Linked DNA regions of Homo sapiens. The protein of the gene in region 4 purifies or fractionates together with the protein of the main gene of each other region. This does not show direct contact. Each region holds a gene or a part of one and is shown on either strand. Other genes may lie near its edges. The genes, in order: PPP2R1B, PPP2R2A, PPP2R2D and FOXD4.

Evidence for each region.
Region 1: the proteins of FOXD4 (region 4) and PPP2R1B purify together in Homo sapiens (co-immunoprecipitation; 3 studies listed by BioGRID and IntAct, with this or other methods). This does not show direct contact.
Region 2: the proteins of FOXD4 (region 4) and PPP2R2A purify together in Homo sapiens (co-immunoprecipitation; 3 studies listed by BioGRID and IntAct, with this or other methods). This does not show direct contact.
Region 3: the proteins of FOXD4 (region 4) and PPP2R2D purify together in Homo sapiens (co-immunoprecipitation; 3 studies listed by BioGRID and IntAct, with this or other methods). This does not show direct contact.

What each region holds. Positions count from the first base shown.
Region 1 is NC_000011.10:111,749,389-111,756,414, forward strand, and holds part of PPP2R1B (serine/threonine-protein phosphatase 2A 65 kDa regulatory subunit A beta isoform), read right to left. Parts: intron 6,063-7,026; coding exon 5,907-6,062; intron 5,707-5,906; coding exon 5,592-5,706; intron 5,182-5,591; coding exon 5,111-5,181; intron 4,190-5,110; coding exon 4,055-4,189; intron 2,945-4,054; coding exon 2,771-2,944; intron 1-2,770. UniProt on the Homo sapiens protein: The PR65 subunit of protein phosphatase 2A serves as a scaffolding molecule to coordinate the assembly of the catalytic subunit and a variable regulatory B subunit.
Region 2 is NC_000008.11:26,294,508-26,301,533, reverse strand, and holds part of PPP2R2A (serine/threonine-protein phosphatase 2A 55 kDa regulatory subunit B alpha isoform), read right to left. Parts: intron 1-7,026. UniProt on the Homo sapiens protein: Substrate-recognition subunit of protein phosphatase 2A (PP2A) that plays a key role in cell cycle by controlling mitosis entry and exit. Involved in chromosome clustering during late mitosis by mediating dephosphorylation of MKI67.
Region 3 is NC_000010.11:131,945,997-131,953,022, forward strand, and holds part of PPP2R2D (serine/threonine-protein phosphatase 2A 55 kDa regulatory subunit B delta isoform), read left to right. Parts: intron 1-1,533; coding exon 1,534-1,795; intron 1,796-3,113; coding exon of another isoform or gene 3,114-3,150; exon of another isoform or gene 3,151-4,408; intron 4,409-7,026. UniProt on the Homo sapiens protein: Substrate-recognition subunit of protein phosphatase 2A (PP2A) that plays a key role in cell cycle by controlling mitosis entry and exit. Involved in chromosome clustering during late mitosis by mediating dephosphorylation of MKI67.
Region 4 is NC_000009.12:115,720-122,911, reverse strand, and holds FOXD4 (forkhead box protein D4), read left to right. Parts: upstream 1-4,494; 5' UTR 4,495-4,792; coding exon 4,793-6,112; 3' UTR 6,113-6,681; downstream 6,682-7,192. Other genes in the region: ZNG1A (zinc-regulated GTPase metalloprotein activator 1A), read left to right, coding at 822-951, 1,339-1,445.

The DNA.
Region 1 (7,026 bases), on a different chromosome or scaffold from region 4:
TTCTCCTGCCTCAGCCTCCCAAGAAGCCTCCCAAGTAACAGGCACCCACCACCACACCCGGCTAAATTTTTTGTATAGTAGAGATGGGGTTTCACCATGTTGGTCAGGCTGGGCTCAAACTCCTGACCTCAGGTGATCCACCCACCTAGGCCTCCCAAAGTGCTGGGATTACAAGCGTGAGCCACTACGCCTGGCCTATTTTCCGGTTTTTGTAGTTTAACTTTACACTTACTTAACATCGTCCACAAGCCAGGTCATACATAAAGTCTTGAGAGAATTTTATAAAATGACTATCTGATATAAAAATATTTAGATATGAAGAGAAATTAAGGAGAATATATATACTAACAAGAAGTTAAAATTGTAAAGCAAAATGTTCATGACTGAGGCATGTCACCCCTGCCAGACAGGTGTAAGTCAGCCAAAGACACCATCTGCCTTGCTTTCACACTGCTCTCTATAGAGCTAGCAACCCTGGGAAACTTTCCAGGTCTAGAAGGAGCAGAGGTTAAAAGAAATGGTACTAAAATGCACCCTCCCTTCCAGATAGTTTTGGTCTTCAGCAAATCAGTTAATCACTGCTCCTCTCCACTCTGAAAAGTAGATCCATGACAATCACCAGTGAAGAGAAGATGACCCATAGCACTTGGGAGTGACAGACAAAAAGGATGACAAAATAACTTCACCTGATCCCATTTGCCATGCACTAATACCTCTGGTATACTTTTCAAAGAATCGGACACTTTCAATTTTATAAAACATATAATGCCACAGACATCCACAAATTGCATGTTCATAAACTAAATGTACTAAAATTAAAAATACAAATTCAGGGGTTCAAGACAAGAAAAAATAAATTCCATATGTTGTGACCTGAAAGGAATGGAAGTGGGAGTGAGGAAGGGGAAACAAACTGTAGCGATGTCAATAGTAAACTGACACATCTTTCTCAAAAAATACTCAACAATCAACAAATGTTGGCTATACACAGTGGCTCATGCCTATTATCAGCTACTCAGGAGGCCGAGGCAGGAGGATCATTTGAGGCCATGAGTTCAAGACCAGCCTGGGCAACAGCAAGACCCTGCCCCCAAAATAAAAAATGTTAAGTGCCTAATTAATGACGGGCACTATGGTAGGGACTGGAAATAAAATACAGTCCCTGCCCTAAAAGAGATCACCCATCTCTCCAACTAGACTGTAACAGACAATTACAATACTCTGTAATAAGTGCTACCAACAGAGATGAAGGTACATCAAACTTAGAACTGTCTAGGCCACCTACTCAAAAAAAGGAAAGGATGTGGCTATAAAACCCAGCTTTGAAATTTTAACTAACATGGTATTAGTTAGGGTAACACTGATCACGAAACTCAAACAGTAACAGATAATGTGATAATGTGGACTTTGACCAAAATACTAACATTACAAGCTTCAGTTTTTGTTTTTGTTTTGTTTTTTTTTTTTTGACACAAAGTTTTACTCTGTTGCCCAGGCTGCAGTGCAGTAGTGCAATCTTGGCTCACTGCAGCCTTCGCCTCCTGGGTTCAAGCGATTCTCCTGCCTCAGCCTCCCGAGTAGCTGGTATTACAGGTGTGCACCTCCGTGCCCAGCTAATTTTTGTATTTTTAGTAGAGATGGGGTTTCACCATGTTGGCCAGGCTGGTCTGGAACTCCTAGCCTCAAGTGATTCGCCTGCCTCTGGCTCCCAAAGTGCTGGGTTTACAGGTGTCAGCCACTGTGCCCGGCCTTTCAATACTTCTTTTCTATATGGTGATTCCTCAACTCCCTTTAATCAGAATGTAGGGCAAGTGGTACCTAGGGACATTTTGCTTAGAATACAAGGCAAACAGGGAAGTTTCCTTGAGCAAAAATCACAGCAGACTTACCCTAAAACCATAATCCCTTTTCTTCTCAGTTAAACATTTCTTAAGTCACAAAGGCATTAAATATTATAAAATTTACATTATATATACCAAGAAACTGATTATTCTATGGCTTTGTTTTTCGGTGGTGATGAGGTGAAATATGTTTCTGTAATACAGATTAAGCATCCCAAATCCAAAAATCCAAAATGTGAAATGCTCCAAAATCCAAAACTTTTTGAGCACTGATATGATGCTCAAAGGAAATGCTCATTGGAGCATTCTGGACTTTGCATTTTTGAATTTGGGCTGCTCAACCAGTAAATATTTATAATGCAAATATTCCAAAATCCACTTCTGGTCCCAAACATGCTGGTCCCAAGCGTATTTAGATGAGGGATACTCAACCTATACCTTTTTGTTAGAAATGTATGCACTAATAGGCCAGATGCAGTGGCTCACGCCTGGAATCCCAGCACTTTGGGAGGCTGAGGCGGGTGAATCACCTGAGGTCAGGAATTCAAGACCAGCCTGACCAACATGGTAAAACCCCATCTCTATTAAAAATACAAAATTAGCTGGGTGTGGTGGCATATTCCTGTAATCCCAGCTACTTGGGAGGCTGAGACAGGAGAATCGCTTAAACCCAGGAGGTGGAGGTTGCAGTGAGCCAAGATTGCATCATTGCACTCCAGCCTGGGCAACAACAGTGAAACTCCATCTTAAAAGAAAAGAAACGTATGCACTAACAAACATAAAAACCATCCTATAGGTAACAAGAACAAGGCCATACTTTCATGCATCTAAACAAACATAAGCATACAGGCTACTAGGCCTCCTACTTGCCATGGTAAATTGTCACTATCTGACACTACCCTGCAGTTCATGGAGCAACACATACTCACCAGCTGGCCTGCCAGCAGCGGCATATACTCAATGATGGCCAGGCGGACCCTCCATTTGGCATCTTCTGCCAGCTCCACTATGGCAGGAAGGAGAGACTGAGAGAGCTGACGGATTCCAATCACTTCATTTACACAATCCAAATTGGAGATGATATTCAAACGAACGTCAGGACACTGCAAGTACACAAGCCCCAAAAGACCACATTTAAAAATCAAGTACTCTGCCCAACAGTCTCCTGTCAGGGTAAGATAAAAGGTGAGGTAAGACTCAGGTGAAAAAAAAATGGATAATCTTGAAGAAATAATAGTGAATACATAAATAACTCAAGGAACATAAATGATCTTAATCAGAAATTTCAATTAAAAGTCCGTAATACTAAAGACTACAAGAAAAGTCCGTAAGATGGTAAAGAGCATAATCTCTGGAACTAAATCAGATGCACTCAAATTTCAGATCTGTCATTGTTGAAAGACCTTGCTCAAGTTACTTTAACCCTCTATGCCTCAGCTTTCTCATCTGTAAAATGGGATAATTGGCCGGGTGCGGTGGCTCACACCTGTAATCCCAGCACTTTGGGAGGCCGAGACGGGCAGATCACGAGGTCAGGAGATCGAGACCACAGTGAAACCCCGTCTCTACTAAAAATACAAAAAATTAGCTGGGTGCTGTGGCAGGCGCCTGTAGTCCCAGCTACTCAGGAGGCTGAGGCAAGAGAATGGCATCAACTCAGGAGGCGGAGCTTGCAGTGAGCAGAGATTGCGCCACTGCACTCCAGCCTGGGCGACAGAGCAAGACTCCGTCTCAAAAAACAAAACAAACAAACAAACAAACAAAAAGGGATAATAATAAGACCTACCTCACAGGATTGTTGTGAGAATTGCATGTAAAAATACATGCAAAGCACTAAGGCTCATGCTTGCCATGTAGTAATTACTCAGTAAATATTAGGTATCATTATAATTTTTGATACTATATTTAAACTTAAATAAATGAAACTTTTTAAACAAAGACACATTAGCTTTAAAGAAACCAGGGAGTATAAAGCAAAAATCAGGTAAAGATGATAAACAGATATTTCTAGGTTTACTCTAATGGGTACTTTTGCCCACTTTCTGAGGAACCTATAACCCCATACCCAAAATCACAGGTGTCATTGGTTTAAAATAAGTTATGATTTTTTTATCCATTTTCTTTTTGGGGGTTCTATTTTAATGAAACCCTAAACCAAAATCAAATAAAATCAAATTACTATCAAAGGCAACAGAACATAAAGCAAGACCCACCTCATCCTTTAACTGAGCTAAGAAAAGAGGTAGAAGATGTTCAATGGTATTTTCTTTGCCCAAAATAGTAGACAATCCCATAATTACAGAAGCTAGAGCCGATTTGACATGTTGATTGGTATCGGATACTAATTCCTAAAATAAAATCGAAATTAAAAGCCTTTATTACAAGACAACAGAAACTTCCATACCATTATTCTGGGAAACAGAGTCTTGCTCTGTTGCCCAGGCTGGAGTGCAGTGGCATGACCTTGGCTCACTGCAGCCTCACCCTCCCAGGCTCAAGCACTTCAGCCTCCAGAGTAGCTGGGTCTACAGACATGCACCACCAGGCCTGGCTAATTTTTTTCATTTTTTGCAGAGACAGGTTCTTACTACATTGCCAGGGCTGGTCTTGAACTCCTGGGTTCATGCAATCCTCTTACCTTGGCCTCTCAAAGCGCTGGGATTACAGGTGTGAGCCACCACGCCTGGCCTAATTTTTTTTTTTTTGAGACAGTGTCTCACCCTGTCACCTAGGCTGGAGTACAGTGGCATGATCATAGCTCACTGCCATCTCAACCTCCTGGGCTCAAGCAATCCTCCCACCTCAGACTCCCAAGTAGCTGGTACTACAGGTGCATGCCACCAGGCTCAACTAATTTTTGTATTTTTTGTAGCAATGGGGTCTCACTATGTTGCCCAGGCTGGTCTCAAACTCCTGGGCTCAAGAAATCCTCCCACCTCAGCGTCCCAAAGTGCTTGGATTACAGGCATGTACCACCATGCCTGACCCCAAGGAATTTAAAGACAGCACTATTTCAATACTGATTAGTTGATAATGTTTCCTCAGACTACTTGTTAGGTAACATAAACCTATGCACCAAAGAGCAGTTTACAATTACAATGGGCTAATAAGTGATGAATAACAATGTTGCACATTAACACATCTTCCCCATTCATTCCCTGTCAACCTTTAAACTCAAAGAGCTTTAAGGTAAACAAACAAACAAAAATAATGAGATTAAGGTTTACCTTCATATAAAAGAGAGTGAAACAAAATAAAGTCAGGTTTACCTTTATATAAGGCAGAATTTGATTCATAATTATGGTCTCTCTATCTTCAATGGGCAAGTTCTCACCAAGTTCTAAAAGATAAATAGAAAAAAAGAATGCTTTCACAGGGCCATTTACAAAGAGCCAAATGAGGACATTTAACCAGGTTTATCAATAATTTCAATTAAATTATATGTTTAAGCAAATAAGGAAAACAGCTCTTGTTCTAAATAAACTTTTTCGTGAACTCTCTATGCCATTGCATATCACACCAATCCAACCTGAAAGGCATTTTTTTTTTTACAAAAACAAGACAAAATGATTTCTTGGTTTTAAATATAAAGAGACTATCTTTAAGTGACAATGTAACATTTCCACACACTAAAAACATCCCTATGTATTTTAAAAACATATTCTAGAACAAAAAACATGCAAAATTGACTAACAAAAAAATGCACCAAAATGAATGACACATGTTCCAACATAAATTGAACTCCTTAACCTTTTACTTTGTGGGCAGCAGCTGCCCGGACTTCAGCTTCACAGTCTTTAAGTAGGTTCTGAAAGGCGGGGATGAGGTCATTTAGGGTGATTTTAGGACCCATGGCTTTCTGGAGCTATAAAAGAATTTGAACGGGTTTTAATGTATACTAACAAAAGAATTAACAAGAACAAAACAAAATTGTGCAATCTGTAAATACATATTTTTGCCACAGCACTTCCCATTGAAAAGAATTAATTCAGAAACTTTGGGTACAACAGCAAATCTATGTGTTTTCAGGTTTATTTCCTTAGTACTTAAAAATGATCACTTTACCTCTGAAAATCTGTCAGCCACCATATAGCGAACGCGCCAAGATTTATCTTCTGCTGCTTGTCGAAGTGTAGGCATCACCAAAGTCTCAAGGTCATCCTGAGACAATAACTGGGCAATACTGACACAAGCTTCCACAGCAAGGAGGCGCACTGAATCCTAAAGGAACAAAATTTCTGTAATTCAGACATTTACTGAGACCCATGGGGAACTGCTGTGGGGTGGTGCAGGTGTTTAAAAAAATTAACACCACCAAGACTGCCACACCTTATATAGTTTCACGTCTTGACATCTTTTTCTTTTTTTTTTTTTTTTTGAGGCAGGGTCTCACTCTGTCACCCAGATTGGAGTGCAGTGGCACAATCTCCGCTCATTCCAACATCCGCCTCCCAGGCTCAAGTGATTCTCCTGCCTCAGCCTCCCGAGTAGCTGGGATTACAGGCAGGAGCCACCACGCCCAGCTAATTTTTGTATTTTTAGTAGAGACAGAGTTTCACCACGTTGGCCAGCCTGGTTTCAAACTCCTGACCTCAAATGATCCACCTGCCTCGGCCTCCCAAAGTGCTGGGTGCTGGGATTACAAGCGCGAGCCACTGCGCCTGGCCGTGTATTTATATCTTGAAAGAGCTGCTCCCGGCCGGGCCCAGTGGCTCACGTCTGTAATACCAGCACTCTGGGAGGCTGAGGCAGGCGGATCACGAGGTCAGGAGAGGGAAACCATCCTAGCTAACACGGTGAAACCCCATCTCTACTAAAAATACAAAAAAAATTAGCCAGGCGTGGTGGCGGGTGCCTGTAGTCCCAGCTACTCGGGAGGCTGAGGCAGGCGAATGGCGTGAACCCAGCAGGCGGAGCTTGCAGTGAGCCGAGACTGCACCACTGCACTCCAGTCTGGGCGACAGAGTGACACTCTGTCTCAAAAAACAAAAAGGAAAAAAAAAAAAAGAAAGAGCTGCTCCCTTTGCCTGGAATGGCATGTCAAAGTCATAAAGATAGAAATGACTTTGTACTATGAGTAAACAGCAAAGTAATTACCTTGGCTAGAATGCAGAGTTTCTATAAAGGAAATGAAAATTTTAAAATTAAGTAAAAAAGAAAAAAAAAACATTTTAATGATGCCTTC
Region 2 (7,026 bases), on a different chromosome or scaffold from region 4:
GAGATCTGTCTCTACAAAAAAAAATTTTTAAAAACTAGCCGGGCGTGGTGGCCTGTGCCTGTAGTCCCAGCTACTCAGGAGGCTGGGGCAGGAGGATCGCTTGAGCCTGGGAGGTTGAGGCTGCAGTGAGCCATGATCACGCCATTGCACTCCAGCCAGGATGACAGAGCAAGACCCCGTCTCAAAAAAAAAAAACAAAAAAAAGAAAAAGGAAAAAAAAAAGAATGGCATTAGCTGAAAATTCAACAAATCTCCAAATTATATTTAATTACTTCAAAATAAAAAGTATCTACTAGGCATTACAAATAAACCTTGTTATAAACAGGAGTTGCAGTTCAACATCAAACGCCTTCACCTGAACTAAAAGGAGATTAAGTTTTGAAATAAAATTATATTAGGAAAAGTGAAAGGTCTAAGGTAAGAATCCCAGCTTCACCACCTGCTCAAGATTATACAGTTAATTAACTTTCCCACCAGTATCTACTTATTTCACAGGGTATTTGTGAAGAACAGTAAATAAATAGATGTAAAGGACCTAAAACAATGCCTGATACATAGTTAAGCACTCAAAAAATGTAGGTACTCAAGATGGCCATGCCATGCCTTCCTTACAATGACTATATAGCAGTTTATTTATAGAAAATCTAATTTGCACCTAGGCTTTTTCTTTTCTTTTCTTTTTTGAGATGGAGTCTTGCTCTGTTGCCCAGGCTGGAGTGCAGTGGCACGATCTCGGCTCACTGCAACCTCCACCTCCCAGGTTCAAGCAATTCTTCTGCCTCAGCCTGAGTAGCTGGGACAACAGGCGCGCACCACCACACCCGGCTAATTTTTGTATTTTTAGTAGAGACAGTGTTTCACCATATTGGCCAGGCTGGTCTCAAACTCCTGACCTCGTGATCTGCCTGCCTCCGTCTCCCAAAGTGCTGGGATTACAGGCGTGAGCCACCGCGCCCCGCCAGCTTTTACTTTTCTTTCTGTCTGCTGAGGAAGCACCTTATGGATACTTGATTACTTAATTACAAATTCCATCATCACCTTAAAGGGCAACGAGATTACAGTTGAGGATATTAACTAAAATTTTTTAGCTATTTCCAATCCTTCAGTTTTCCTATTTAACAGCATTAAGAAACGTACCTTTCTTCCTACAATCAACTTTAAGATAAACTAGGCAAACACTTATATGCAAATACGTAACATACTGTAACCTCTTCACTGATTTAATACATTTTTGCTTCAACCTCTCATCATTCTGCTTATTCCACAATTTTCAAGAACTTGATTTTAATATTTTGTTCACTATTACAGAGTACTAAGAAACACCTAAGGCTAATTTTTGTTTTATTTTAATAACATGACAAAATGTCAGCAATATGTTTTCAATGGCCATTCTCTCTCATAATTTTTTGTCAAATGAATGTGAAAAAACTTAGTATTTTAAAACAAAGCAAGAAAACTATTTGATGCTAAACAGATACTATCATTCATGGTATTTAATGGGTAAACTTACACTACTACTTTAAGTGACTGTACTGAGTGAGGTCTACTAGACTTCAGTAGTAATGCTAGTGTTAAGAAAAAGAAGTGTCACATGTCATACAAGGTAAGGATATTAAATAAGACCTTTACCATAGGTCATTAGGTTTCGGAATACAGCTAATGTGCCACTATTTTTAAATCCACAAAACAACAGGGTTCTACTTTTTCTACTAACTTACCTTACTGCCTAAATCTAACATGCATACTACTCTAAGAAACACAGAAGACGGCCTGGGCAACACAGCAAGACCTTGTCTCTAACAAAAAAAAAAAAAAGAGATGCAGAAGAGAAATGATTTTAAATTGTTTACATTATAGCATTAAACATATGGAATGGACTAAAACCATTAAATTGTGTGAGATATCATAATATGGACTGTTTTTCAAATTTTTACTTATGTCCTTATTTGGGGCATATTTTAGCCTCTACCATTTAAAAAATATTTTTTCAAGACCCAGTCCACAAGGCTAAATCCTACCAAAAGTAAACAGAAAGCAAAGAGTTGAAAACACACAATGTACTTGGATCCAAGTTTCATAAAATAAGACTTTATAAGATAATATCCTAAAATAATTTCCTGTGAAAGTTTAAGACTATCAAATATGCAGATGAGGTTCATTATTAAATATTTAATAACATCTGATATTTTAAGATTACTAAACAATGAAAAATCTACATTAAAATAATTAAAATAACTATCTTGAATGGTTAAGTTGTTCCTTTTTTTTTTTTGAAACAGAGTCTTACTCTATTGTCCAGGCTGGAGACCAGTGGCACAATCACAGCCTAACTGTAGCAGACCTCTCAGGCTCAAGTCTCAGCCTCCTTAGTAGCTGGGACTACAGTTGCACACTGCCATGCCCTGCTAATATTTTTAATTTTTGTAGAGAAAAGGTCTCACTATGTTGTCCAGGCTGGTCTCAGACTCCTGGATTCAAGAGATCCTCTCGCCTGGCCTCCCAAAGTGCTGGGATTACAGGCGTGAGCCACTGCACCTGGCCTGTTCTATTATTTTGACCAATTATTACACACTTCAGATTATCCACATGTATTTGAATTTTTAATAATTTATTTCCACAAGTAAAATTTAAACACATTATCAAAATCATTAGAAAAAATTTCTTACTGTTCGACTTTAAGAAATGAACTTGGCTTTCTATTTTGTTAAATTCAGATTTTAAAAACAAGTATTACATTATTAAATAACAAAAGGATGGGAAAGGGTCCAGTGATGGAACCATACATGGGGCAACACTGGCCATTGACAACGCCGGGTGACAGGGGTTCATTATACTATTCCACATACTTTCTGTAATGTTCCAGATTGATTACGTTTTTTAAAAAACCAAATAGTCAAATTAACAAACAAGCAATTACTGTATTACCTTGAGGATGAAATAAACACTGCAGAGCACTACTGGTTCAGCAGAGAATGTGTGCGTGGTCATAACAATTTAAGCACTGACGTCCAATTTAATCATAGTGTGTGATGTAACATCGGGGCACAATGGGGACAGAAATGGGGGTGATAATGTGAATAGCTTAGTTATCATCTACTAGAGGAGCAAGTCAGCTGGAAATACTAAAATTGACAAGATATAGAAATACCATTTTATTCCCAAAAAGGAAATGAAGCACCAAGGAACCCAGCGGAAGAGTTGAACAACTGCTCTTAGGAGATGGACTAGGGATTAAGGAGTGGGGAGGTAGGGGACTGCCATTTTTCATCCTAAACCCTTTAATACATTATTAGATTTCCAAAAACTTCTTACTGTAAAATGTAACAGATAAAGAAAACCAAAAATTGAAACAAAAATGTCCAGGTTACTCTTTACAAACATCTGTACAACCACCATCCCAGTCAAGATAGCCCACAAGGGCCTCCCCAGCCCTTCCCGATCACAACTCCTTTCCAACAGCTTAAGGGTAGCCACTATACTGACTTTTATAGTACTTTTTACAGTATGTTTTTTTCCTTTTACTTCATAGCTTTTCTTCATAGTTTTACCAGCTGCATATGTGCCTCTAAACCTATAGCTTAATTTTGAATGTATTTTGTAATTTACTAGTGGAATCAAAGAGTATGTATAACACACATATATGCTATTTCCTTCACTTTGAGAAATTTTTAGTAGGCTTTAAAGACAAATCCTCAATATACTCATACTCCAAAGACTCTTCCTTCAAAGTAACAATAATATGAAGGTTCAAGTAATAATATCTAAATCCTCATAAGGCTCTTTTCTGCTGGGTACTGTTCTGTTTTATGTGTATAAACTCATTTAATCATCAAAACAACACTGTAAGACAGGTTTTATTGTTATCCTCATTTTATAGAGGGGAGCTAGGCACAAAGAGATGACCACAGAAATGATAAATGACTGAGCAAGATTCAAACCATGTAGCCTAGCACCTGAGTCTGTGCTCTTAACCTACTGTCTCATGACAGACAGTTTTCAATAAAAGAAAAATTAAAAATGTAAAATATATTACTAGCAATAATTTATTTTTTATTTAAGGCCTCTAGAGAGTACGGTATCTCAAACAATCTAGCTTACCAGTAGTATTAATTACCAGTAGTAATAATTTTGTGGCCGGTGGCTCACACCTGTAATCTCAGCACTTTGGGAGGCCGAGGCAGGTGGATCACTTGAGGTCAGGAGTTCAAAACAAGCCTGGCCAACATGGCAAAACCATCTCTAATAAAAATACAAAAATGAGCCGGACATGGCGGGGTGCACCTGTAGTCCCAGCTTCTCAAGAGGCTGAGGCAGGAGAATCACTTGAACCCGGGAGGCTGAGGATGCAGTGAGTCGAGATCGTGCCACTGCACTCCAGCCTAACAGAGTGAGACTCTGTCTCACACACACACACACACCAAAAGAATTTGGGCTGTTTTTACATGCCTTTGGAAATTAACAAGATTAAAGTACAAGGAAGAGCAGAAATCACCTAATCCACTCTTGTTATTCCATTGCTAAACACACAGGAACCCAGGAGAGTACTTATCCCCAGTGACATACACTAGTTTGTGCTGGAGCTAGGGTAAAAACCCAAGGTCTCCTGATTTCTTTGCATTATACGGTTGTATAACATCAATCTGGTTATAAAAAGCCTACCGATGATTCTGCAGAAAGCGTTTTAAATTTTTATTTTAAAAAGCCTACCAAGTAAATAAATCCATGACTGCTAGAACTACATCTCAATCATCCTGCCTTTTACCATTTCTCTTCCCCTTTCAAAACCTAAGAACAATAACATTTACGTTCCTTCATTCAAACAAATATTCAACTACTGTGTGCCAGGCACTGTTCTAGACAGAGCAGCTTCATGCCTGCATAAGGTACGAAGATAAATCAGTCCTACACTAAACTCTGTAGTATGTAACAGTAGAGATGTGGGGTACCATATGATATCTACGTAACAAAGTGCTATAAAGGAAGACTTTAAAAATAGGTTATTTCCAAAAGAGGAAATTAGCAAAAAGGTTAAAGGCGTGACTTGAGAGATGAGCAGGATCCTGGTAAGAGAACTGTGGGATGATTGTCAGGCATTCCAAGGTGGAAGCAGCAAAAACAAAGACCCTAAAGTGAGAGAGCATAGAACGCCTTTTAAGAACAGTATCTGTTTAGCTGGGTCATTAGCCATAGCAGCAAATAAACTGAGAGCAGAGGCCATATTGGGCAAAGGTCATACATTCTAGACTGAGATGTTTGAACTTAATTCCTAATCCAGTGGATACAGTGATCCACTTGTAGACTTATGAGGAAAATGACAAAACTGGGACTGCATTTAAGATTAACTTTGAAGCAAAACAGGACGAAGAAGCAGGGAATAATTTAGGAACTTACTGCAATCTGGATGAGGGAGAGTGCAAACCTGAATAGAGGTGAAAGCAGGTATGCAAAGAAGATTAAGGCATTACAGAGTAAAAATGGTATGCCCTGGCAGCTGACTGCATGTAGACGGGAGAAAGGCAGGCAATATGGAGACAATCAAAATGTATCATTAACAGAAAACAGGCAAGTAAAAGTTGAGCTACATGTAACCTGTTGAAGAGATCAGTCTAAAGGTAGGGGGGTGGGGAATGTGTTAATAACCTTATTTTACTTCAGAAAAGCAAATCTCCCCTTAGTCAAATAAGCAAGACTATAATATGCAAACTCTAGTATGCAGAAATATCCAAATTAAAGCAGTGTCATTTGAAAACTGGATTATTTTTATACTTAATACATTTGTACAGCAATACCTATTAGAACTAGTCATATTTTTACTAAGATATGTTATCTTACTAAAATGTATATACCAAGTATCAGCATTTTACGATGCTAAGAATATGCTTACGTTAAAATATTTAACAACCTCTAAAGAAAATTATTTAACCAATCAGTAGAAAAATGCAGCTACTAAGTATCAGCAAAGGGGAACTATAACTGATTTATCTCCTAACTTCACGTCAATAGGTTCTTGAAAACTTTGACTTTGTTTTCTGCTCAGCATCTTTTGTTATGGTATGGATAAAAAATGGTTTTGTTATAAGTTGCTTTCTTTGCTTAAAGTCACAGAACCTATTGACATTACATTATTGACAGAACCTATACATTAAGGGAGGACTTAATGTATATCACAAGTTATTTGGTTCAGGTAGGTAAATGATGTTCACTTTGAACTATCAATTTCTTCTGATTAAATAAAAGCCATGTGATCTTTCTGCGTAATGTTTAACAAGCAAACTATGAGCTCCTTGTGGGCAGAGTTTATGTTCCAGACACCAAGTACCCTCAGTGCTCAGCATTTAGGGGAACTTTCCTAAGGGAATAAATGGAATTCAACCAAAGAACATTTTCCAAGTATACAGCACTTTCATAACTTGGTGAGTATTACACAACTGCACAGAACTAATGATCCAATACTGGAGTGTTTACTATTCAACAGGTAATGTAGTTACAACATGAGTAATACACAACTCCTCCCTTGAAGTCAGGACTTACTTCTCTGAACAAGTCAAACACCACTGACTTCATCAGAAAACCTTGATTTACACTATGTGCATGACCATCAGTCAGTCTCTTTTGTTTCTGGTTTCTCATCTAAGAAACAGATGAGGATCCAATAGAAAAGGAACGTGAGAGAGCTCTGCAAAATATGACAAGTATAATCTACACCAGTTGGCTTGCCATAGGATTCACCACACTCTAAAACAGACAATTAAGGATGACACTGACACAAGCAAATAAGAGAGTTCGGCTACCACCCACCACCTGAAAAAAAATCTCCAGAACAAACAGTACCCTACAGACAGGTCAGAAATATGAGGACAACACAATCTAGGGAAAAAAGGTTTATGAATTTTCACCAAATTTTTAAAACTCACAAGTACATGTTTAAATTTATCTGAGTTTTGTTTGGAAAATTCCTACTGTAATTCAAGACACACAATACCATTAAAACTCAAACTTCAACATTTCTCAGGAATGAAACAATGC
Region 3 (7,026 bases), on a different chromosome or scaffold from region 4:
TCTGCCCAGAGCCTGGGTGTCTCCTCAGAGGCTGCCAGCACTGAGTCCCGCCAAGAGCCACCCGTTGCCTCTGCCTCTGTGCGTGAGACCTGGGCTGAGGCCGCCAGCACACAGGAGGCCATTCCCAGCTGTTGGAATGAGCTCCTGTTCATGTTGAGCTTGGCTGGATTGGAAGCCACTTCCCTTAGCTGAAAGTCTAGCATTTTAATCCAGTGAGCTTTCAAGCTCCTTTTAGGTGAGGGAGGTTCTGGTTTTGTTTTTATTTTTAGCCATAAAGAATGGGCTTGACTTTATAGAGCACTGTAGTCAGCGTGTCCCAGTGTCCTGAAACATTGCTGACCCTTCCTCCAGTGCCAGCAGGTAGACACACGTCCAGTGACTTCCTCTGATGGGGAAGCCGCCAGTCAATCCCACCAGACTGAGCCGCTGCTCATGTGCAGCGGCGCCCCCAGTGCCTCGGTGGAATGTGCCCATGGACCGTGTGCAGCAGCCTTTTCGCCTGTTCTCTTTCCTGAGGTTGAGTGTGTTTTTAAGAATTCGTATTTCTACTAGAATTCCTGCGATGAGGATGAGTGTTTCGTAGCATTTGGCCTGTATCTTAAGCATAAAATTCTTGAGTAAATAATTTCAGATTCCAGTTCTATTTGTCATCAGAGTGATTTATTTGAGTAAATGCTTGGCGTCGGCACAGCTGGCTTCAAGTTAATTTCAGATGCTAAGCCGACAAACACAGGCTCCTGCATCAAGAAAAAAGAGAAAAAACCTAAAGCAGCTTCAGGTCAAGGAAGCACAAGCCAGGTGCAGTGGTGCTCACCTGTGGTCCCAGCTACCCTGGAGGTTGAGGCGGGAGGATCTTTCTGAAAATAGGAATCCAGTTTTGTCACAGTAGAGCTTGTGTATATTCAGTATTGGAGACAAACCTTGGCTGGCTGGCTTTGACCGGCGGGACCGTCTTGGTGGTTAAAATCAGGACCACAGCGTTGCCAGTCAAGGTGGTCACTCCTGCAGACCCACAAACTGTCGACCCTCCAAAAAGCAGGCAGTTTCTTAGAGGCACAGACCGCTGTGTCTGCATGACCATATAATGCTGTTTGTGTCTTCCTGTGATGTGTATGCGATAGAATTTCACGTGCTCGGGCCTGGTGCCATGAGGACGCGGAGACACTCCTACAGGAATGCGGTGGTGCTGAACCTGGGCACACATCAGGATGCCCCGAGGAGCTCCCACAGATGGCAGTGCCCAGGACCTTGCCTAGAGATTCTCATTCAGGGTCCGGGTGAGACTTGGGCGTCTACGCTTCTCATGCCCATCCCTTGTCCATAGCTGGTGCTAGAATGTCTTATCCGAAGCTCTTGCCCACGGAAGTCACAGAAGATCAGAAAACCTAGAGAATCAGAAAGATCAGAAGACCTAGTGTTGAGGCCAAGCCCTTCCAGAGTCTCTCTGAAGGGGCCACTTCCTACTTGAACTTGAAAATGATTTGTTCTCTGATTTTTAAACAGAAGCTGAAAACATTTTATTTTGTTTTTCAGTTTTTGAAGAGCCTGAAGATCCCAGCAGTAGGTCCTTCTTCTCAGAAATAATTTCATCCATATCCGATGTAAAATTCAGTCATAGTGGGCGGTACATGATGACCAGAGACTACCTGTCGGTGAAGGTGTGGGACCTCAACATGGAGAGCAGGCCGGTGGAGACCCACCAGGTCCACGAGTACCTGCGCAGCAAGCTCTGCTCTCTCTATGAGAACGACTGCATCTTTGACAAGTTTGAGTGTTGCTGGAACGGTTCGGATAGGTAAGGCCTGCGTGGAGATGAGCTGTCGCCCCAAGCTTGCTGGTTTCCGAGAGTGCAAGGTCAGTGAGGGAGGCGAGCTGTCCTCCAGCGTCAGAGGAGGACGCTCATAGGGTGTTGTTTTCCAGACCTTTTGATTGATGGATGATAGTATCAAGGTAGAGAAAATAGGATCTCTGAGCAAGTTTCTCACCTAGCTTGTCATTCCATTTATATTTAGACAAGAAGTATAGCACTAGGTACAGGCCGGCTATGTGTTAAATGCTTAGTGAATGATAGTGTATTACTTTTTATTATGCTGATAATGAGTGAAAAGGAAGGAAGTGGGGAAGTGATTCACCTCACTGGAATGACCGCGTTGCAGTCTGCCTTTCCTTCTGGAGAGAAGTAGATGAAAACACCCCAGAGCCACTGCCTGTCATGCCCAGACACAGCGTGGTCATGGCTGGTCTGAAACACCAATGTAATTTATAATGTGATGGTTCTAGTACCTTGATAATTTATTTTGTATACATTCTTTAAAGATAGCTATGATTAGTGTGGTTGAGAGTTACGTTTTTTTTATTATGCAAAAAGTTACGTTTCAGATGATGGAAGATTGTCTTGCACCATTTTTATATAGAATTTTTGTTCAGAATTCAAGAGAACAGAGGAGTCTATTGGCAATAAGTGATTGACTGGATATTCTGCAAAACCCTCTGGCATAAACACCTAGAAATGCTGGATATGATACAGCAGGTGTCTCTTCAGGTGCATAGTTGAGCTCACAGATAAGCAAGGGAAATCTCACAACGGCCAGAAACTAAGAGGGAGCTGAAACCAGAATGGCAGCCTCTGAAGGCGTCTATTCCGAGAGCAGCCTTGCAGCCCCGGCTGGCCTCAGGAGCATCAGCCCATAGCAGGAACCACTGCCCCTGTGAACAGCAGGTTATGGTGCAAAGCTGAAGCCTTGTCCCACACGAGGTGACTTGCTCATGGTGGCTTTTCCTGTATGTGCTTGGTAATTTTCAAGAGCTGAAGCCTTGGCCCACACGAGGTGTAGAGTTGGAACAGGGACCCCTGAAGATGGTGTCTCCCTCCACTGGCAGATAGGGTCCAAAGGGCAGTTTGTCTGTCTGAGGCCTTGCATGGGGGTGGCCAGCACTGCCCTGAGAAGTGGAAGCAAAACCTCCCCTCACAAGGGTTTGCAGTTTGGGTTTGTGCCAGCTACATCATGATCTGTAAAATCTCACACTGTGGAGCTCCTGCCTCCACGAGGGCTGTGTGCGGGCATCGGGAGGGACCGGCGTGTTTCCAGATCTGGCTTCTACTCTGTTTGCAGACTGACCTGCCAGCCTGTAGCATCTCACGGATGTTGACTGAAGACATGAGGTTCCCGGGTTCTCATGGCACAGCTGGCAGCATGAGCCTCTCGTTGGCCTGGGTTCCCCACGGGTGGACACTTGAGGCCGTGGCTGATGCACACTGAGCTTGGAGAACCCCACTGCTTTCACAGCGGGCAGTAAACACACCTGCACTTTGACTAGAAGAGACATGACCTCATTCCTCAAGGCCGCTTGCTGGAAGCACAGCCCTGAGAAGTGGCCCAGGTGGAGAGAATGGCATTGGCAAACTCCGTGAGAACACGCATGCTGGGTAGCTGCTGCCAGCACACCCAGGTCTCTCTGGATTTCGTCACATTAAAATCATCTAAACATGAGCTCACAGGTGAAAATTACCAAGCACATACAGGAAAAGCCACCGTGAGCAAGTCAGCAGAACCACAGCAGAACTGAACCTCCGAGAAGGCAGCTGTTGAGATCCTAAGTTAAAGAAGATAAACTAAGAATGCTTGAGATATTCACAGACTAGAGGAAGGAAACAGCCTGAACCAGGAGCCACATGACCGCTAAACGTGACCTGGAGACTGGAAAGGAATCAGAGGGAACATCTAGAAATGACAAGTATGATACATGACCGCCAAACATGACGTGGAGACTGGAAAGGAGTCAGAGAACATCTAGAAATGACAAGTATGATACATGACCGCCAAACATGACGTGGAGACTGGAAAGGAGTCAGAGAACATCTAGAAATGACAAGTATGATACATGACCGCCAAACATGACGTGGAGACTGGAAAGGAGTCAGAGAACATCTAGAAATGACAAGTATGATACATGACCGCCAAACATGACGTGGAGACTGGAAAGGAGTCAGAGAACATCTAGAAATGACAAGTATGATACATGACCGCCAAACATGACGTGGAGACTGGAAAGGAGTCAGAGAACATCTAGAAATGACAAGTATGACAGATGAAACTGTGTGGGTTTAGCAGCAGGTCCATTTTGGCTAAACAGATCTTGTATTAGTGGATGGAAAGGAAAACCAGAAGAAATGCGGGCTAAAGAGCCAAACAGAAAACAAGAGACACTAGGAACCGTGGAGGCCAGGGTGAGGCACAGCACACGTTTAAACAAAGTTTGGGGGTGTGAGGCTTAAAGTGACAGTGGCCAGCAATTTTCTCTAAATTATGAAAGCCTGAATACACAGGATCGGGAGCACAGCATCCATCCATCTCATAATGAAATTGCAGGACACCAAACGCAAAGAGAATATCTTAAATGCACCCAAGGAAAAAACGCAAATTACCTCTGAGAGCGGACACCGAGACTGAGACTCGGCTTTGCCACGGCCACAGTGGGAGCCAGAAGCCGTGTGACAGATCCAGCAAGTGTGACTCCTTACTCTCCACCGCCAGCTTAGAATCAAGCCTTGAAGTAGATGCTCGTTCAAGAATCTGCTTGTGATAAAGGCATTTTCAAATGGGAAACAATGTATCACAACAGGAAACTCAGTAGAGCGAGCTGTAAAGGGAGCCTGGCCCTGCAGAAAGGGGCTGAGACAGATAGGCAGAGGAACGCAGCCTGCAGGGAAGAGCAGTGCAAACTCTGAAGCTCTGCCACCTGGACGGCCTTAGTTATCTGTGTTTGGGGGAGAAAAATTAGAGCCCTCACCAGCCCCACACAATAAATAAATAAGCTCTGAGTGTTTCTAAGCCTAAGACATCTTTGTGAGCTCTGGAAACAAGGGCTTCTTTAAGAAGGCCCCAAAAGCCCAAGGAAAACATTAAGAAATTCAACTACATTAAATTTTAAACTTCTTTATATTGAAATTAAAAGTGAAAACAAAATCCACAAAAGGATAACGAACAGAGATTAAGTATCCAGAATAGGTGCAGAATTAGTTGTCAACAAGAAGGTGGCAAACAACTCAGAAAAGAGCAAAAACCATGAATGGGGTTTCGCAGAAATGGAAAAATAAATAGAAATGCTCATCCTTCTTAGTGATCAGCAAGTAAAGCCAGAGGGACGTCCTTTCATGCCCATCAGAATGATGATGGTTTGGGGGAGAGGGTGGAGACCAGTGGTCTTACCCAGTACCCTTCTTGTGACCTCCTTGGTGACATTCAGTCGGGTTGGGAGCTTCTTGCATGTTCAGACAAGAAAACGTGCTCAGATACCTGAAATAGCAAACAACTGGAGACAGCCCACAGGTGCATCATTAGAGGAATGGACAGGTAAGTTGTTCTCTATCATAACATATACTGAAAAGCAGTGAGAATCAATTATTAGAACTACATGGATCACCTAGGTGGATCTCACAAAGATAATCCACAAAGAAAATTCAGGAGGAATGCGTACGGTGCAATGACATACAACATGTTTAAGACATACAAGACGGTTTTGTTTTAAGAATCTGTAACTATTGGCCAGGCGCAGTGGCTCACACCTGTAATCCCAGCACTTTGGGAGGCTGAGGAGGGCGGATCACGAGGTCAGGAGTTCGAGAGCAGCCTGACCAACATAGTGAAACCCCATCTCTACTAGAAATACAAAAATTAGCCGGACATGGTGGTGCATGCCTTTAATCCCACCACTCAGGAGGCTGAGGCAGGAGAATCGCTTGAACCTTGGAGGTGGAGGTTGCAGTAAGCTGAGATTGTGCCACTGCACTCCAGCCTGGGCGATAGAGTGAGACTCTGTCTCAAAAAAAAACAAAAAAAATCTGTATACAAAATATAAATGTGTGTGGGGATGACACATATGTACTCTAGCAAGTGAGGACCCCAACTGGGGATGGGATAGGAGACCATCTTTCTTTCCAGAGTGGCAACACAGTGCAGGGGGGTCCCTGTCTTAGCAGTGACTTGCTGGTGTGCAGAGGGGTCACTCTCTTAGCAGTGACTTGCGGGTGTGCAGGGGGTTCACCACCTTACCAGTGACTTGCAGGGGGTCCCTGTCTTAACAGTGACTTGCGGGTGTGCAGGGGGGTTCGCTGTCTTAGCAGTGACTTGCGGGTGTGCGGGGGGGTTCACTGTCTTAGCAGTGACTTGCGGGTGTGCAGGGGGTTTCACTGTCTTAGCAGTGACTTGCGGGTGTGCGGGGGGGTTCACTGTCTTAGCAGTGACTTGGGGGGTCCCTGTCTTAGCAGTGACTTGCGGGTGTGCGGGGGTTCACTGTCTTAGTGACTTGCGGGTGTGCGGGGGGTTCACTGTCTTAGTGATTTGCATGTGTGGGGGGGGTTCACTGTCTTAGTGACTTGCGGGTGTGCGGGGGTTCACTGTCTTAGTGACTTGCGGGTGTGCGGGGGTTCACTGTCTTAGCAGTGACTTGTGGGTGTGCGGGGGTTCACTGTCTTAGTGACTTGGTGTGCGGGGGGGTTCACTGTCTTAGTGACTTGTGGGTGTGCGGGTGGTTCACTGTCTTAGTGACTTGCGGGTGTGCGGGGGGTTCACTAGTGACTTGCGGGTGTGCGGGGGGTTCACTGTCTTAGTGACTTGCGGGTGTGCGGGGGGTTCACTGTCTTAGTGACTTGCGGGTGTGCGGGGGGGTTCACTTAGTGACTTTCGGGTGTGTGGGGGTTCACTGTCTTAGTGACTTGCGGGTGTGCGGGGTTCACTGTCTTAGTGACTTGCGGGTGTGCGGGGGGTTCACTGTCTTAGTGACTTGCGGGTGTGCAGGGGGTTCACTTAGCAGTGACTTGCGGGTGTGTGTGTGGGGTTCACTGTCTTAGCAGTGACTTGCGGGGGGGGTCCCTGTCTTATCAGTGACTTGCGGGTGTGTGTGGGGGGTTCACTGTCTTAGCAGTGACTTGCGGGGGGGGTCCCTGTCTTATCAGTGACTTGCGAGTGTGCGGGGGTTCACTGTCTTAGTGACTTGCGGGTGTGCAGGGGGTTCACTGTCTTAGTG
Region 4 (7,192 bases):
GCTTCCTGATGCATTTAGCAGACACTAAACATTTGTCATACTCTAAACAAAGTTACAAAGGACTAGAAGAATTCTTGTTCTGTATTTAGAAACCCACTCACGTTACTTGATATTTGGGTATTTAAGTCATGAAAGGTATTTCTTCTAGGAAGCAGTGATTCTAAAGTGTATGCTTAACCAGTCAGTTGAGTGTCTACTCTTGTGTGTTCACAAGTGTGCACAAAGTTTTTGGTAAATTAAGAATATTATTTCAAATAAATTAATTTCATCCCCATAGGAGCCAGTTTATCAGATAATTCGTTTCTCATTTCTGCAAATCAATACACAATGAGCTCATATTCAGATAAATATAATAGTTTTTCTTTATTTCATCATTGTTCATTGATTGCAACCCATTTCTAAAACAAATTATTTAATATAACCAAACTCCTTTAACTTCTCAACTTTTCCCACGAAAACTGTGAAACATTATATAAAATCTTTAATCAATAGGATATGATACATATTTCATCATTTTGTTTCAGGTTTTGGTTGTGATAAATAACACTGAAAAACCATCCTAATATATGTATTAACTTTATCATTAGAAAAGGGGATTGTTCAAAAAGAAAATCAATACACAGAAACCTTTTTTGAAAATTAAAAACATTAAGAAACTTCTTGTAATTCACAAATAATTGGAATTAAGTAATTTTCTCAGCTTAAGAGTTTGTATTTTTTAAGTGAATATCAGTAATTAATCCATTAACATTGATGCTCTATTTCTGCTTTTAAGTTTGAACTGAGGCTGATTAATGTTCAGTCAATTCTCCTTTGAGCAGGGATTGGTGTCAATCAAAGACAAATCACAACAAGTGATTGTCCAGGGTGTCCATGAGCTCTATGATCTGGAGGAGACTCCAGTGAGCTGGAAGGATGACACTGAGAGAACAAATCGATTGGTCCTCCTTGGTAAGTCTCAAAGGATTCACAGTTTTAAAACAAAGTGAAAAATATATTTGAAAGGGATATCATGTGCCACTTAAACAGATTAACCATTCAGGTCCTCTTTTAAAACTAAATAAGCTTGTGGTCAATGTTTCATCTTTATCACGTTACAACGTTCGTAAAAGCTTGTTAGGACTTTTGTTCTTCTTCAGTTTTAGAAAAGTGGTTAATCCAAGGACCAATGTGACTTTGATGTACTGACCTGGAAAGTTAAAGATGGAATCACTCAATTACTATTCTTTTTGTAAATTTCTAAACACCATAAAGCATTTAATGAACTGGAATTGATAGGTGAACTGTGTCATTTTAATAAGCATAATGTAATCACGTCATATTTTGTTTTGTTTGCAGGCAGAAATTTAGATAAGGATATCCTTAAACAGCTGTTTATAGCTACTGTGACAGAAACAGAAAAGCAGTGGACAACACGTTTCCAAGAAGATCAAGTTTGTACATAACACTAGAGGCATTTCTTATCAAAAGGATTGGATAATAAAAATAAGTTTCTACTGGGTATATTTCAAGCATTTATTTATTACTTTAGTTACGAATTCCAATATACTTTAAAATGGTATTTGTTTTACAGCATACATAAAATGTAGCAAATCAGTACTGTAAAACATTTAACATTCATACAGTTATATATAATATCCTTTTTTTTAAAGAATGGTATTTCACAAAAATATCTTTTGAAATTGGCTTTGGAGTTTACATATACTGAACATGAAAGTTTATAATAATGATGATACAACTTTCAACATTGTCATTTTTTCTTAGAACTTCAGCTGATTGCAGAGATATAATGATTACATTGTTATTAAATTTTTTTAACACAAGTAAGTGTCACCATTTTATGACATGAAATAAAAGGTTATGACTGTTATTGATGTTGATGTTGACGACCTGATCACCTGGCTGAAGGAGTGTTTGTCAGGTTTCTCCATTGTAAAGTTACTCTTTTCCCCCATTTCATACTGTGCTCTTTGGAAGGAAATCACTATGCACAGCCCACACTAAAGGAATGGGGAGTTGTAGTGTACTTTCTTGGGAGTGGTCTACATGATTAATTGAAATTCTTCTGCAAAGGACAGTTGTCCCTTTCGCTTTATTAGTTCGATCATTTATGTTTATCAGTGTGGACACATGAATATTTTATACTTTGGGTTACAATTTAATACTGCTTTATTTTGTTGCTCAAATTATCCCAGCTTTGACCATTGGGAACTCTTTCCGTTATCTCCTGTTCCCACCTTTGACATACCCCCATCAATGTGGGTTTTGTGTTTTGTTTTTGAGTGCCTCCTTACTTTTCTCCTGTATTTTTAAATAACCCCAATCCCTATTGAAGCTGGCGCTAGGAAAACTAACAATACTCCCTTTCCCAGGTCATCCGATTCCTATGCTGATGGAGGAAATTTGCCTCACATGCTGGGGGCGCTGGGATTTTGTGGTTGAATAAGACACCTGGCCTGGCCCTCCTGGAGCTTAGTTTAGTAGGTCACACAAGCAGTCATTGGTAAATTTGGGATTCAAACAAATCTGTTAGGCTCAAACCTGTCTGTTATTTGTCCTCCAAGCTTCATATAAACTGAGGAGCCTTAAAGGGTAAAAACTTCAGGAGCAGCAAAGTTTCAAAAAAAGATCAGCAAGAAAGCCCTTTTCCAGATTTTATCCTGAAGGCACTAGCTACTTTAAGCTATTTTTTATTATATTTTGCCCTTGCAGTTGGCGTTTGATTTCTCACTGAACATTCATTGTCATAATTATAGACACTATGTGACTATCAAGGGCATAATATTCTTTCATGCTGCATTTTTATTAGATGGCACCTCAAAGTTTTCCCAAGTAGGTGGGTTTTAAATTATGAATATATACCGTGGCATAGTATCTTACTTAGTATTTTAATAAGATCCTTATTTATATAACAAATATTTTTTTTATTCCTCTGTAGTGCTACTTTAGTCTCTGAGCTAATTTTCATGAAGCCAATCTAAAAATCGTGTTACTTCTAAGGATGTGGAGCGAGTGAGATGAACAGTTGTGCTGTCATATTGCCCCTCCCCAGTGCAGACAGTGAATGAGGACCCACTGATTTAAAGGCAACACTGCAGCCCCTTCTTGCCTCATTGAAGTCCCAAGTTTTATTACAGTAAAAGCACTTAATGTTGACATTTCTGAAAGAATGAAGAGGCCGGGCGTGGTGGCTCACGCCGGTAATCCCAGCACTTTGGGAGGCTGAGGCGGGCGGATCATGAGGTCAGGACATCGAGACCATCCTGGCTAACACGGTGAAACCCCGTCTCTACTAAAAATACAAAAAATTAGCCGGGTGCGGTGGCGGGCGCCTGTGGTCCCAGCTACTTGGGAGGCTGAGGCAGGAGAATGGCGTGAACCCGGGAGGCGGAGCTTGCAGGGAGCCGAGATCCCGCCACTGCACTCCAGCCTGGGCGACAGAGCGAGACTCCGCCTCAAAAAAAAAAAAAAAAAAAGGAAAAAAAGAATGAAGAGCCAGAGCCAGGCATAGTGGCACGCCTGTAGTCCCACCTACTCAGGAGGCTGAGGCGGGAGGATCACTTGAGCCCAGGAATTCAAAGCCAGCCTGCGCAACATAGACCCTGTCTCTAAAAATGAATTGGTTATAAAGGATGAAGAAAGGAAGGAGGAAAGGGAGAGAGAGAAGCCCTTATAGAGTGGGTGCATTTCTTGTATGTGGGGCCACTTTGTAAGAACAGGATTTTTCAAACTGGGCCCATACTGGTATGTGTGAAATCAATTTAGTTGGTTATGGCCATTTTTTTTTAAAAGGAAATATCAGTGATCACTATAGTGTAAGTATATTGTTTCGTGAAAGCCATCTTAGTTATGTATTATGTCTGTATGTGTAAGATTGTGATATAAAATGTATTTCTGTGGTTAAATATTCAAAGAAATTGGAGAACCATTGCTACAAGGGGACAGAGGACTCCGTGTGAGCTCTCCTGCCTTCCCTGAATAAACTTACACAATTTAGTGCTGGGACATTTGAACCTTTTCTGAAAATTTGAGTCAGGGAGAGCATCTTGGGGAGGTGGGAAGGAAGGTAGAAGGAGCAAAGCAACACCCCCCTGAAGCCTGGGAATATTGTCAGAACCTTAAATATAATTCAGCTCACCATTCTGGGTAAGGACAGACTCTACCAATGAAAATGGGTGATTACCAGCTGTGAAACACAAAAACATACTTTCACGGTTACACATTCCTTTACAAACAACCGTGTACATTTCAGCCTCCTACCCCACCATTTCTTTTCTCCAGGCGGGAAGGCTGCATGTCGAGGTGGTCGTAGAATGTTGAGTATCCTACTTTCCTACCTCGCTTTTATTTGCGCGGGTTTAAATGCGCCTTAACAGAACCCGTGCAAAGGCTTGCCTACTGTCTGGCTGCACCGGATGAGTAGAGCATCTTCCTTGGTGGCAGGTGGGTGCGAGGAGGAGGGCGCTGGGCTTTTCTCCGGACGGTGTTTGCCCAGAAGACCATCATCCCTGGACTACGTTAGGAGGAAGTGGCACCGCTCCGAGGTAGGGGAAGAAGGGTTATAAAGGGAGGCGTCCACCACACATGGTCTTGAAGAAGCTTTTATAAAAGGCGAAGGCATCTTTGCCGGACGTTGTTGCAAAGGCGTAGAAACAAGCAGAGGAAAACATCCCAAAGGGTAACCACTAGCGTTCCTGCTTCTTGCAACATTCATCCCGGGCTTCCAGCTCAGCCCGCCGGGGCCAGGTGATCCGGCCGCCACATCCCCTGCGACTGAAGCACCTGCTCCGCCATGAACTTGCCAAGAGCTGAGCGCCTTCGCTCCACACCGCAGCGCAGCCTCCGGGACTCCGATGGGGAAGACGGTAAAATCGATGTCCTGGGAGAGGAGGAAGATGAAGACGAGGAGGAGGCGGCGAGCCAGCAGTTCCTAGAGCAGTCGCTCCAGCCGGGGCTGCAGGTGGCCCGGTGGGGCGGGGTTGCGCTTCCCCGAGAGCACATCGAGGGCGGCGGCGGCCCGAGCGACCCCTCAGAGTTTGGCACCGAGTTCAGGGCACCGCCAAGGTCTGCGGCGGCCTCTGAAGATGCCCGGCAGCCGGCAAAGCCCCCCTCCTCGTACATCGCGCTCATCACCATGGCCATCCTGCAAAGCCCGCACAAGCGCCTCACGCTCAGCGGCATCTGCGCCTTCATTAGTGACCGCTTCCCCTACTACCGCCGCAAGTTCCCCGCCTGGCAGAACAGCATCCGCCACAACCTCTCGCTGAACGACTGCTTCGTCAAGATCCCCCGCGAGCCGGGCCGCCCAGGCAAGGGCAACTACTGGAGCCTGGACCCCGCCTCCCAGGACATGTTCGACAATGGCAGCTTTCTCCGGCGTAGGAAGCGTTTCCAGCGCCACCAACCGACCCCGGGAGCCCACCTGCCCCACCCCTTCCCTCTACCTGCTGCACACGCCGCCCTGCACAACCCCCGCCCAGGCCCTCTGCTTGGGGCCCCTGCCCCGCCGCAGCCAGTCCCGGGGGCCTACCCCAACACCGGCCCCGGGAGACGCCCTTACGCTCTGCTGCACCCGCATCCTCCTCGCTACCTACTGCTCTCGGCCCCCGCCTATGCCGGGGCACCGAAGAAAGCAGAAGGCGCGGACCTGGCGACCCCGGCACCCTTCCCGTGCTGCAGCCCTCACTTGGTCCTCAGCCTTGGGAGGAGGGCAAGGGTCTGGCGTCGCCACCGGGAGGCGGATGCATCTCTTTCAGCATTGAGAGTATCATGCAAGGGGTCAGGGGAGCGGGTACAGGGGCTGCGCAGAGTTTGTCCCCGACCGCGTGGAGCTACTGCCCCCTGCTCCAGCGACCGTCAAGCCTGTCGGACAATTTTGCAGCAACAGCAGCGGCATCAGGAGGAGGACTGCGCCAACGGCTGCGCTCCCACCAAGGGCGCGGTGCTGGGCGGGCACCTGTCGGCCGCGTCGGCGCTGCTGCGGTATCAGGCGGTGGCAGAGGGCTCTGGGCTGACATCGCTGGCCGCCCCTTTGGGCGGAGAGGGGACCTCACCAGTTTTTTTAGTATCGCCCACGCCCAGTTCCCTGGCCGAGTCCGCAGGGCCCTCCTAGAGCCAGGTGGGAGTGGGGAGCGACCCGCAGCTGCTCACTCCACCTTGCGCGGCCCATACTGGGCGTGTGCATCTGAATCCCGCTGGAGAGCAAACACGAACTTCTGTTCCCTGCAAAATGGTTAGAAAGAAACAGCTGGATTACGTTCCTCTAAAAACCACCTGAACGTAACCTTCGCAGGGCGTCAAGTCATCTTTTCTTGCCTTCGGTTGTGGCTTCTGTGGCTTTCCCGATTTGCACATGTCCTGGGGTACTATGAACGTGAGTGGGGTATTTTGTTCTGGCATTAAAAGAAAAACAAGCAAGCAAACAAAAACACAGCCTCCGATGCCAAACATGTTCCCCCTTCTTCACTTCCTTGGAACTGGAAGTATTATTCCTAAGTCTAGTGCAAAATGCTTCTACTCTCTGTGTCTTCCTGATAGGGATGTTTAATGTAAGTAGGATATTAATTTCAGAACATTGATTTCTTATCTGTGTGTCTGACGTGCCATCTTTAATGTTAAAATTAAGGTGTTAAAATTAAGCCTAGTTATATAGACGAAATAAAATGCTAAGTCACTACACTACATCGTTTATTTTCTATTACGTCTCATTCTTCCCTTTCTAAATGGAACTTTTTAAAACCTACATTATTTTCCCTCAATTTATTTTCACAATTCATATTTATTATAGATAGCAGAAGTAATCCATTTTAATATGGCCTTTAAAAATTCCAAATATTTGAGGTTGAAAATGTCCTGGCTTTTAAAATAGGAAATTTACTATTTATGAGACTTCTAAAAGAATGAATAGGAGGGCATGTAAATATATTCTCCATTTATTTTTCCTCACCCCCCAACAAGCTGGAAAACCATTTGAGATCAATTTGGAATGTAGTGGCCAACATGTACTCAGGGAAAATAAAAGGCTATAAATATACATATATATATATATATATATATATATATATATATATATATATATATATATATATACACATTTTTTAAGCACTAGAATTTTCAAAACTTATTTCCTAAAAAAAAAACTCTGAAAAGACTTTGCAACTAGAAAGGTTTAAGTGTTACTCGGCGTCAGGGG